2 separate regions of the Homo sapiens genome follow, and region 1 is linked to region 2. Evidence: fine-mapped QTL for protein levels in blood plasma. Region 2 holds a variant in brackets. A gene starts in the other region. All regions are shown on their forward strands.

What was found. PIP is the posterior inclusion probability: the model's chance that the variant is causal. The UK Biobank Pharma Proteomics Project read protein levels with antibody pairs (Olink). The fine-mapping took linkage between variants from a reference panel, not from the people measured, so its PIPs are less certain.
Region 1: it holds the start of ESAM, and the variant in region 2 is fine-mapped to the plasma level of the ESAM protein (UK Biobank, PIP above 0.99).

What each region holds. Positions count from the first base shown.
Region 1 is chr11:124,759,889-124,765,252 of GRCh38, forward strand. It overlaps ESAM (endothelial cell adhesion molecule), which reads right to left and starts at 2,402. Exons shown (of 7, transcript NM_138961.3): 1 at 2,197-2,402. The coding sequence starts at 2,266. ESAM-AS1 (ESAM antisense RNA 1) reads left to right here. Exons shown (of 2, transcript NR_120577.1): 2 at 4,841-5,364. RefSeq lists enhancers at 1-62, 1,957-2,460 and silencers at 2,191-2,600, 3,141-3,190.
Region 2 is chr9:133,275,387-133,280,747 of GRCh38, forward strand. No RefSeq gene overlaps it. Among named protein-coding and RNA genes, the nearest start is that of SURF6, 58 kb to the right of the region's middle. RefSeq lists a silencer at 1-169, a cis regulatory region at 14-58, promoters at 136-667, 456-667 and enhancers at 3,052-3,621, 3,418-3,570, 3,492-3,514. The variant G/A (reference allele first, on the strand shown) is at 1,171.

The sequences.
Region 1 (5,364 bases), not on the chromosome of region 2:
GGCCCGCTGGCCATTCCGCTGAGGCCGGGCACGCCTGGAGCCTGCAGGTGCTGCCGGCTCTCCCCCAGCCTTTCTACGACACACACCCGGCGGCCAGAAAGGGTTTCCGCCGGGAAACTGCCTGGGGCCCAGAAGGGGCGCGCCCTTCCTTCACCTTGTGGACCACCAGCGACCTCCCCAGGTCCCACATTTATAATTCCACTTTCCAGAAGGTAGAGGAGAGTTAAAAGAGATAGTAACGGACACACTGGGGTCTGGGCACATGCTCCTTGCCCTTCGCCCTGTCAGAAACTAGGAACAGAAGAGGGCCTGAGGCTTTTCTGCTCTCCCTCCTGGGTGTCTGCTGGCTCGGAAGTCACCAACTGGTCCGTTTTTTTCGGTCCCAGGGTCCACGGAGCCACTGGGAGAGAAAAGGAGTCTGGTTGGGTCTGATCGAAGGACACTGGGACAGCCCAAGAAAGGGACCCTTCCGGCCCACAGCCCTCTCCGAGGCCAGAGTGAGGGAGCCGGCAGGGGCCGAAGGAGAGCGAAATGGGCCCGCTCCCCGGGGCTATTTTTAGTCTCCCTCTTTCTCTGAGAAACTCCCCCCGCGGGCTTCTCACGCCCCAGGGGCAGCAGCACTGAGCCGCCGAGGAGCCTACTGAGCCGGAGAGCCTCCTCCAGAGCCCAGAAGAGCGGAGCCGGGCGCCTGCACGTTGCACCGGGGTCACCAGTGCCATTTAACCCTCGAGTGGCTGGCGGGAACTGGGCAACCCCCCAGGGGGACCGATTGGAACTTTTGAGTCCAGGTCTTCAGTCTGACAAACTGAGGCTCAAAGCTGGGGTAGGACAAAGGGTTGCAGATGAGCAGCAGGTGAAGCCTGGGACACTCAGGCAGTCAACTTGAACTGTCCTCCCTGGCTTCAGAGATTCCCCCAGCCCCCACCCCCCACAAGGAAGGGGGATAGAGTTGGGGTGGAATGCAGAAGGAACAGAGCTGAAGTTGAAGTTGGGAAAGGCGGGATGAGAAGTCTGAGGGATCCTGGAGCAGGCCCACCAAGCCCAGAGGGACAGAAGGCTACTTGTGGCCTTGGTGTGGCCTGGGGGGCTGTACTTGAGACTCATTTTGTCCAAGGACTATAATATTGCATGCCCCGACACCTGTGGGGCACAGAACATGCTAAAGGGGACACTGGTGATCCTCATCTCTGTCCCCATCATTGTAGAATTTCACTCTACAGCTTCCCAGGCCTTACTTGTCCTGACATCCTCCAACCTGAGAAATGAGTTAAAGTCAATATAGCTAAACCCACCCTTCACTCCCATTCGAGATCCTTGAAGGGAGATGGCAAGAAAGCTGAGGGACAGCAAGTGAAATAGTTTAAAAGGGCCTAGTCCTGCCGGGTCCTCTCCCAGATGGAGTTCTGAGCCACCCCAGCTTCAGCTGAAGCCAGCGCCCCTGGAGGCCTACAACACTTCCCAAACACTTGCTCCAAGGAGGTTCCCTTCCTCTCTGACCCTTGGCCACCCTCCTCCCAATTTCCCCTCTTCCCTTTGGCTCTGGAAACCAATAAGGGTGGTGGGCCTTGGGGGGGTGGGGTGGTCACAATTCTGTTTCTCTGTGCGTTTGAACCCCTCCCCCATTTCCTGTGTCCCAAATGACCTCACGGTCGTCCTTTTGGGGCACCTCCCTTGATTCCCAGGGCAGGAAGCAGGAGGGGGCAAGAGAGAGCATCTGCGCTGGGGAATTGACACGAAGTGCGTGTGTCAAGCCTGGGGACCAGGGGTATTTCCCCGGGGGATCTTCCTCATCAGCTTGTATGTGGGGTCGGGGATGAGAGGGGGCTAGAGTTAAGTCCTTAAGCTCTTTAGCCAGTGTCTCATCTAGCGGCTCAGCTCATCCGGCTCTGCTGGGTGGGGGGTGGGGAGTGGACAGGGTGAGGAATGGTTCCGATAACTCACCCCAGAGGTATCCAGGTCTTCCGAGAGATGCCCTTACCTCCCCCCGCCATCCGCCCCCACACCCAAACTGGGGGCTGTCCCCGACAAAGCGAGAAGTCAGCGCCAGCCAGTGATGCCCTGGAGTGGGATTAGGAGGTCAGGGGAGGAGGGCGAGTCGTGGGACCCAGTTCCGCAGCAGTGGCCAAAGTTCTCCCTCAGGGTCGAACTCACCCCATCCCGCATCCCAAGTCCCCTCCAGGTCCGGGTTTCACTCACCGAGGGCACTCAGCCCCAGGAACAAAAACCGCAGCAAGTTGGTCACCAGGGGCCCCGGGAGGGAAATCATGGCCCTCCCTGGCCGGGACGGAGTCAGGGGCGCCAGCCGCGGGACGCACGGACCTGCAGGTGCCGAGGCTGCGCGACGGCCGGAGCGTGCGCGGGAGCCGAGCCGCTGACACCCAGGGCGGCTCCAGCCCAAGTCTGCGCGCCTGTGTGCCGGTGGCGGGGTGGGGACCGACGGCGACAGCGGGGCGGGGCATTCGAGGGGGCGGAGAGGTCGCCGTCCTCCCGGGCGGGGCGCGCGGGGTCCGCCGCCCGGGGGCGCCCCCAGCGCGCGGACGGCGGGACCCTGCGGCCTCCTCCAGGTCTGGACGCAGGGAGGGGTGAGGTAAGCTCTGATGCCCCACGAGCCAGCCAGGTACGAGTAGAGGGGGAAGAGGAGGCTCCAGAACTATCCTGAGCCGTAACCTTCCCTTCCGCCGGGGTGGGATAGGAAGGGTGACCAGGAAGGGTGGGAAATTTGGGGACTATCCGAAGTCAGAACCACCCGTAACACCTGACATGTAAACGCTCCTGGGCTCTGGCTCCAAACTTGGGGGTGCCGCATCCCCGGCCCAATCAGGGCGGTCTTCCTGAAGGAGGAAGAGGGGAGCAGCGTTTTCCAGCTGCAGGGAGAGGCCGGAGCGCCGGCCGCGCGGGCTCCCTGGCACAGCGGGAATCTGTGGCTTTCCTGGAGGCGGGGGCTGCGCGGCCACCGGAGCGCGGCAGCGAGGGCGACGGCAGAGGTCGCGCGGGAGCCCAGGGCGCCCCGGGACGCGCCAGCGGGGAATCTTCACCCGCGGGCAGGAAAAAGCGCTCCGCGAGTTCAGCAGACCCCAGCCCAGGCTGGAGGATTACCCCGGCCTGTGCCTCATACTCCGAGCAGGGAAGGTTGGCACAAGGTAGTCCCGGGAGCTGAGCAGGAAACTGAGGCAACGTGCGTGCTGCTCCCAGCTTAGCCCCTGAAATGAGCGGCGTACGGGCCTGATGCTGACTGGGGAGGAGGGGCGGCTGCGGGAAGGAAGACAGGACAGTCCCTCCGTTTCTTCTTTATCCCCCAAATCTTCAGTGCCTCCCATCCCCGCAGCGAAAGGCTCAGGCGCGCTCTGATCCTTTAATTCCCGAGACTAGATCTTGGTCGCTGTGAATTGAATTTTACGCCCCCCTTCCCGCGCCATTCGGTCAAAAGGCACCTCTGCGCCCTCTGGCGGCCGCCGCTCCCTTACAGAAAGGCACGCACCTGTTCTTGCTTTTCTGTCCAACAGCCAAAAAAAAAAAAAAAAAAAAAAAAAAAAAATGCTTCAAACATCCCAGCACAGCTCAACCACCCAGCAAAGGTCAGTGAGGGAAGAAAGCATAACAACGAATTCCTGACGCTGCCCGCTCTGCGGGCAGAGCTGTCTGGGAAGAAAAGCAGCCAGGCCTGCGGGATTCCATTTACTGCACATAGTTTTGCTGTTTTAACAGAGTGTAGTCCCTGGGCCCACACTTCACACAAGATCTTTTTCTATACAGTGCCCCATATGCCCTCTCAGCTGCTTCTTTCTAGTGTGACCTGCCTGGCTCCTCTTCAAATACCTGCCATGCAGTGGCTTTGAGAAATGCCTATGCAAACACAAAACTGCTCATGCAAACCCTAGAATCTAGTACTTGGCAGCTCAGTGGAGGCACAGACAACAGGAAGAGATACCTGCCAGTCTCACACTCTTGTGTAGGGAGCTACAAACTTGGACTTGGCCAAGCAGATTGTGTGGTGGGGTTGGGGGCTGTTGGTTTGGTTTTCCTATTCCATCACACTCAAATTTTTCTTGGCTTTAGTCTGCATTGCAAACCATCTCTTGTAAACACCCCTCCTTTGTTTCCAGACAAGTCACCCCAAATAAGTAACTCCTTCCAAGAGAGGAAGTACAAAGTCTTTTGGTTCTAACCCAGAAACACCAAGTATCTAATCACACAGGCTGTGCTTATCCTGATCAAGTGCTACATAAGGTGTAGCCTCAACATTCATTCCCTGTAGCTAACTTTTCCTTCAGAATTCAGATCCCAAATGACTTGTGACATGGGAAGTAAAGCTGCAACCAATGATTTGTAGTCAGTGAATGTCTCCATGTGACACAGGGGCAGTCTCTTCAAGATTCTTTGACCGTAAAGAATTGTCCTCACTGTCTCCTGTCTCCTATTTCAGCTATTTCTTTCTTCTGACCCTGAGGGCAGTCAAGTCGTAGAAGTTAGCAGAGCAGCTCCATTACTTTGTGAAAGTTTTCACCAAGATGCATTTTAGGGTGGACTGCTCTCCACCCTGGTGTAAATCATGAATGCTGACACAGATGATCTATGTGCGACCTGGGAACTGCTTACATAAACGTGTGCAAGAGCTAGTTCATAGTTTCATATGTTAGAGACTTGCAGGTCATTAGTGTTTCTTCCAATCACATCTCATGTTAGATTCCGAAAGTAATTCCTAATATTTACCTTTACATTTGAATATACTTTCTCTGTCCCCCTTGAATCAGTTATAAGGCTTCATTAAGGTCTAAATATTCCATTTCTTATTTTCGGCAGTGCTCATAGTTATCTGACATCCTGCTATCTTCTTTTCTAGACTGTTCTGGCCAAAGAGACTGGAGATCCAGTATCAGCAAGCTACTTTCTTGGTAAACCTCCATTTCCCAATGCTCATCTTTGTCCTCTACCCCCACCCATCCCAAGGCAAATGATGAAAACATCTATTGGATCCAGCCTTTGCTATCTTCTCCATGCTGCTCATAGTGGGTCTAGCAATGTCCCATTCTCGGTAATGTTTGGTAGGTCTAAAACATCCTCACGAAATGTTCCCCAAATGTTCTGCTCCAGCTGAGCAACTAATAACAATGGGAAGATGCAGAAAAAAAATGCATGGAGCATAATGTTAGTTTTGGGACTCGTCAGTGGCAACGTTTTAGAGATGCCATGAAGAATTCCTGGTAATAATCCTTCTTCCTACAGCATTTAGCAATGAATACTATGGGATTATGGCTAAAAGATGGTCAAGACTGCCTCAGCCATTAGGATCAGAATTCTAAGTTCCAAAGAAGAGCAAACTCAAGAGGATTTCCTCAGGCCTCTGACTATAGATGCTGCCTGGGG
Region 2 (5,361 bases):
GCATCCCCAAGGGACCCGCGCGCCCCTCGTGGCCCTGGTACCTTGGGGCCCTGTCCCCGCATCCCGCCCTGGGGCCGAGCGGCTCCGGGTGCCCCTGAAGCCCCGTCCCCGGGGGCCCCTTGACACCCTGTCTCCCGGGCGGGGGCGACCCCCTGACATCCTGCTCCCCCGGGGAGGCGGGGGAGACGAACCCGTGAAGCTGCGGCCCCAGAACCCACGATCCCCGGCCTTCCGGCTCGCGCGCGCCGCAGCCTGTAGCCCTCCAGCCCCGCAGGACCCTGTGCCCCGCGCCCGCGACGTCCCCCTAGGCAGAGTCGCTTCCCCGGCCCCGGCTCGCGGCCCCACGGAGCTCTGCGTCCCGCAGACTGAGGAACCTTCGCGTTCCCCCTGCGAGCGAGTCCCCCTCCGGCGCCCGCGCCGGGCCCTGAGGCCTCTTCGCGCGGTCCGTGGACAAAGCCCCGCTCCGCCCCGCTACGACCCCCGCCCTTGCCTGGCGTCCGCTCGAGGAAGCTCAGGAGAGGGCGGCGGCGGCTGCAGGGACTGGGAGAGCGCGCCCCGCTGCGAAGAGGAGTTACCTCCCGAAGGGTCCCAGAGGCTTCTTCCTGCTTTTCCTGATATCTCTCAGAGGAGTTTACACTGATACCCCGTTCACAGGACCCTGATCCCGTCCCGCCCTCCCGGGGCACCGTTCTCATCTCCGTGAAAGCTGGGGGCATCTTTAATGCTTCCTTTCCCTCCCACCCCAAGTCCAGTTCGCCAGCTCCGAGACGTGTCCCTAAACATCACACAGAATTACCGTACGAGGCCGGGCGCGGTGGCTCATGCCTACAATCCTAGCACTTTCAGAGGCCGAGGCGGGCGGATCACTTGAGGTCAGAAGTTCGAGACCAGCCTGGCCAACATGGTGAATCCTCCATCTCCACTAAAAATACAAAAATTAGCCGGTCGTGGTGGCTCGAGTCTGTAACCCCAGCTACTTGGGACGCTGAGGCAGGAGAATCGCTTGAACTTGGGAGGTGGAGGTTGCAGTGAACCAAAATCGCACCACTGCACTCCAGCCTGGGCAACATAGCAAGACTCCTTCTCAAAAAATAAAAATAAAAATAAAAATATTATTACCGTATGAGCTGGCAATCCTGCTTTTGTGTATACACCCAAGGAATTGAAAGG[G/A]GGTCTGGAAGAGACATGTGCACATCTGTGTTCCTAGCAACGGAACTCACCATAGCCAAAAGCTGGAAGCAGCCGTGGTGTTCACCAAGGCGTCATGGCTGCACGGAGTGAGTCTGTCTCTAGATGGAATGTTTCTCAGCCCTAGAAAGGGAGGAGACGCTGACACCTGCTACAGCGTGGGTGAGCCTTGATGCCTTATGCTAAGTAAAATCCAGTCCAACAAGGAAAAATGCCATGCGATTCTATTAACTTTTTTTTTTTTTTTTTGGCAGAGTCTCGCTCTCTCTCCCAGGCTGGAGTGCAGTGGTGAGATCTCAGCTCACTGCAACCTCTGCCTCCCAGGTTCAAGCGATTCTCCCGCCTCAGCCTCCTGAGTAGCTGGCACCACAGATGTGTGCCACCATGCCCGGCTTATTTTTGTATTTTTAGTAGAGACTGGGTTTCACCATGTTGGCCAGGCTGTTCTAGAACTCCTGACCTAAGGTGATTTGCCTGCCTTGGCCTCTGAAAGTGCTGGGATTACAGATGTGAACCACCGCGCCCAGCCACAATTCCACATATCTGAGGGACTGGAGTCATCAAATTCGTAGAAATAGAGAGGAGAATGGTGGGCGCCTGGGGAAGGCGGGAATGGGGAGCTGTGAACGGTGTTGAGTTTCAGTCTGGGAAGATGAAAAGAGTGTTGTAGATGGATGCTGGTGATGGCTGTACAACGATGTGAGTGAACTCAACACCATGGAACTGTGCGTGTTTAAATAGTTGAGATGGTAAATTTCATGTTATGTGTATTTTACCACAGTAAGGAAGGAAGAAAGGGGAGGATGAAAGAAGAAAAGGGGAAAGAAGGGAGGGAGGGAGGCAGGAAGGAAGGGAGGAAGGGAGGGAGGGAGGGAAGTTCCCTGTGGGCAGCCCTTAACTATTCAGAGGGACAAGTGGGACAAGCCTGGGGGCTGTGTTCCTGCCCCTGAGGGACTCTGGCCCAAGGCTTCCCTGCCTGCAGACCCCATTCCAACAGGCCACTTCTGAGACTGCAGAGCCTTGGTGGTCTCCAGGTCCACGACCAGGGAGCCCCACATGGGGAGGGTGCTCTCCACTCCACCCACCCATGAGCTGAGGGTTAGGCTGCCGCCCAGCATCCTGGTGCCACCTGCCCTGTTTGTGGGGCTGAGTGTTCTCCCTGGACGGGCCTGGCACATGGAAGAGCTCAGTGATCAGCTGTGGATCTGGTCCTCTGAGGCTGTGCCCTGTACCGTGAAGGACACCAGAATATGTCACTCCAAAATGAGCCTCAGAAATTATCTTGAGTTGAAGGCAACTAAGATGCAGCAGAAGCAGGGAAATCTCTCTCTGCCCTGTCCCTCTGCTGTCTGAGGCAGGATGGAAATTATAGGAGAGAGACGCATCAGCCAGAGGAAAGAAGGCACCCTAGGGCTCTGTGAATGAAACTTCCGCCTTAGTTTCCTCCCAATACTCACCTTGCCGGTTTCCCAAACTTGGAAGCCTAAAACCGCTCTCCTGGGTCCTGTCATTTCCCCACACGTTGATTATTCTTTGTTGAAGTTGCTCCATAACCCAGTTCTAAGTCACTGTTCTGAGTTGCTTTTTGTTGAAGCTTCTTCAGTGAGGTGCACTACATGCATTAATGAACTGTTTTTCTCTTTTGTAAGGAGCCCCAGCTGGAACCCTAAGAGGAGCAGAGGGAAACTTTCACTCCCCTACCATGGCACAGTGGCCTGCCATGTTCAGGGCTGGGGGCTAGTCCGGGTTCTCACACCTTTTGGCTGACTTTCTAGCCCCGACCCCTCGTCCCATCAGCTCACTGTTTCCATAAAACATTTGTCATGGCGATGTGCAAGGAGCTCCCTGCCACTGCCTTGAACTTCTTCCCTGAAAGCAGCCAGCCAGTGTTCAGAGGAAGGGAAGGAATAAAAGGCTCTGCAAAGGAGAGCCCGGTCAGACCAGGAGGTGTAAGCATGAAACCGATGTGTTACTCACAAGACCAGGAGGTGTAAGCATGAAACTGATGTGTTACTCACAAGCGGCTGGGCCAGGGAAGGACTTGGTTCAGAAGAGGGAACAGTCTTGCCCAAGGTCTTGCAAGCTTGTGGCCCAAACCCAGGTCCAGGGAGACCTCCATTCTGGTTTGCATGTGTTGGAAACAAGTGCTCGGTGTAGCGAAAAGAAACCCGCACTTAGAAAATTTCTCAGCAAGTCACTTTTACTTCTGTAGAAGGGTGCTGCCTGTGCCTGTTACAATCCCAAGAGCACACTGAACAAAGGAGGGAAGGGGTTTTTATCCCTAATGCAGTTTCTGTTTCTGTGTCCTTCCCCTATTGGCTGGGGTTGGGCCGCATAATCTAAGCTGACCCCGACAGGCTAATGCTTAAACCTTCCCAAATAAGGTAAAGGTGTGATTTTTGAAAAGGTTGTAGGGGTAGGATTTGTTTCCAAGTTATGGCCAGGAAGTTGAATCTTTGAAGAGGAACTTAGTTGTCCCAACAATTTCCCCTCTTCTGTTTTATAGTTCTTCCCCTTCAAATTTATTTAACAGGAGTTGGCTTTGTTGTTCTTCTTTATCATCTAGGAGCAAGAGCTTATCTGACTATGGATGGGGAGAGGTGGGGGAGGTTTTTGTGAGAGCTGCTTCTATGAGCCTTTGGGTTAACCCACGAATACAAGGTATGATACAGCAGCCCACAAGGATGAGTACACCTGTAACTGTTGCAAGGGAGGTAAATATTTAGGTCATGAGTCCCTTCCATTTTCCAAACCATTTCTCCATGACACCTGCAAAGGGGTCATCTATTCCAGAGTTCTCGGCTAATTCATTTGCTAGGGTGGTAAGGCTTGTAAGGCTTTTGTGATTGTCCTGTCCAGGGCTGTGTTATTGGGGATAAAAGTGCAACATTGGACCCCAATCATGACACAGACTCCGCCTTTTTTTGGCCAATATCATGTCAAGGGCTATCCTGTTTTCCCAGGCCATCTGGCTGGTAGGGCCTAATTGTTGAGCTATTCTTTTTATGGCATCTCTGGTGTAATTGATGAATCACTGTTGATTATAGTATATATAATGTATCCAGTCTACATTTTTGTTTATAGTGGACCACCAGAATAATACAGACTCAAACCTGGTGGCTATTTGGTTTCGAGCTTTGAATTCATTTTGTACCCCCCAGCGCAACCCCGATACTGTCTATGTAAATATGAGAGGTCAAAGGACCCGTGAGGGGTTTCTCTTTTCCTTTGGGTTACCTGCTTCCTGTCTGGTTGTTGAAATGCCAAGGTGAAAGGGATGGCCAATTGGATCGGAGTGCAAATGCTGCTCCAATTGTTTGGCAGAGTACTCAATATTGGTCCCCCACAATACCACTGTACATCTGCTTGGGGATGGATTAGGGCTGACTGACTGGTTAGCTCTTGGAAAGGTTTAGGCCCAGTACATCCCATCAGGTTTCCGAGGAACGTCAGATTTTCCCCTTGCCATGAGAGACATGAGGTAAAATTGGCATCAAGAGCTGGAAGTCGAATGGCCCTTGGGGGCTGTCCCGTAGGGCTTCTGACTTTTGGGAAAACTGGTGGTTTTGGCAATTTGAGGGTGTGACTCCTTTGGTAAGGTGGATGTAAGGTTTTAGGGCGGTGCAACCCTCTGAGGAGGTCCAGCCCTGATACTGGGTGGTCTAGATAACATCTCCCCAATTATAACATAACCCCTGGAAGGCTCGTGGTTGTCCATCACAAGGGTTTCTGATTTGTCTGAAGCGGGTGGAGGGGCAGAGGTACTTTTCTGAAGAAGCTAGCTGTTTTTGACTCTAAAGGTCTCCACAGGGCATGACAAGGCAAGCATTGAATGTGATCGTTTGAGGGCAGGGTGATCGGGTTACATTGATGATAAGATGTTCTTTGGTAACTAAAGGAATTAAAAAAAAAGACAGACTAAACCCTTTTGAACATTGGTTTGGAGGGTGTTGGTCCTGGAGTGACAGTCCATGACTTTGCAAGGGGTGGGTCCCTCCTTTTTCGGCCTTTGGATTGCTATCTCAGTGGTTAGGAGTATTAGATAAGGTCCTTCCCAGGTTGGTTTGAACTTTCCCTCTTTCCGTCTTTTGATAAGGACATGATCTCTGGGCTGGTGTTAGTGAACTGGGAATTCGAACTAGGGTGGAGTTTGCCCTAGAAGGCCTTGAGTCC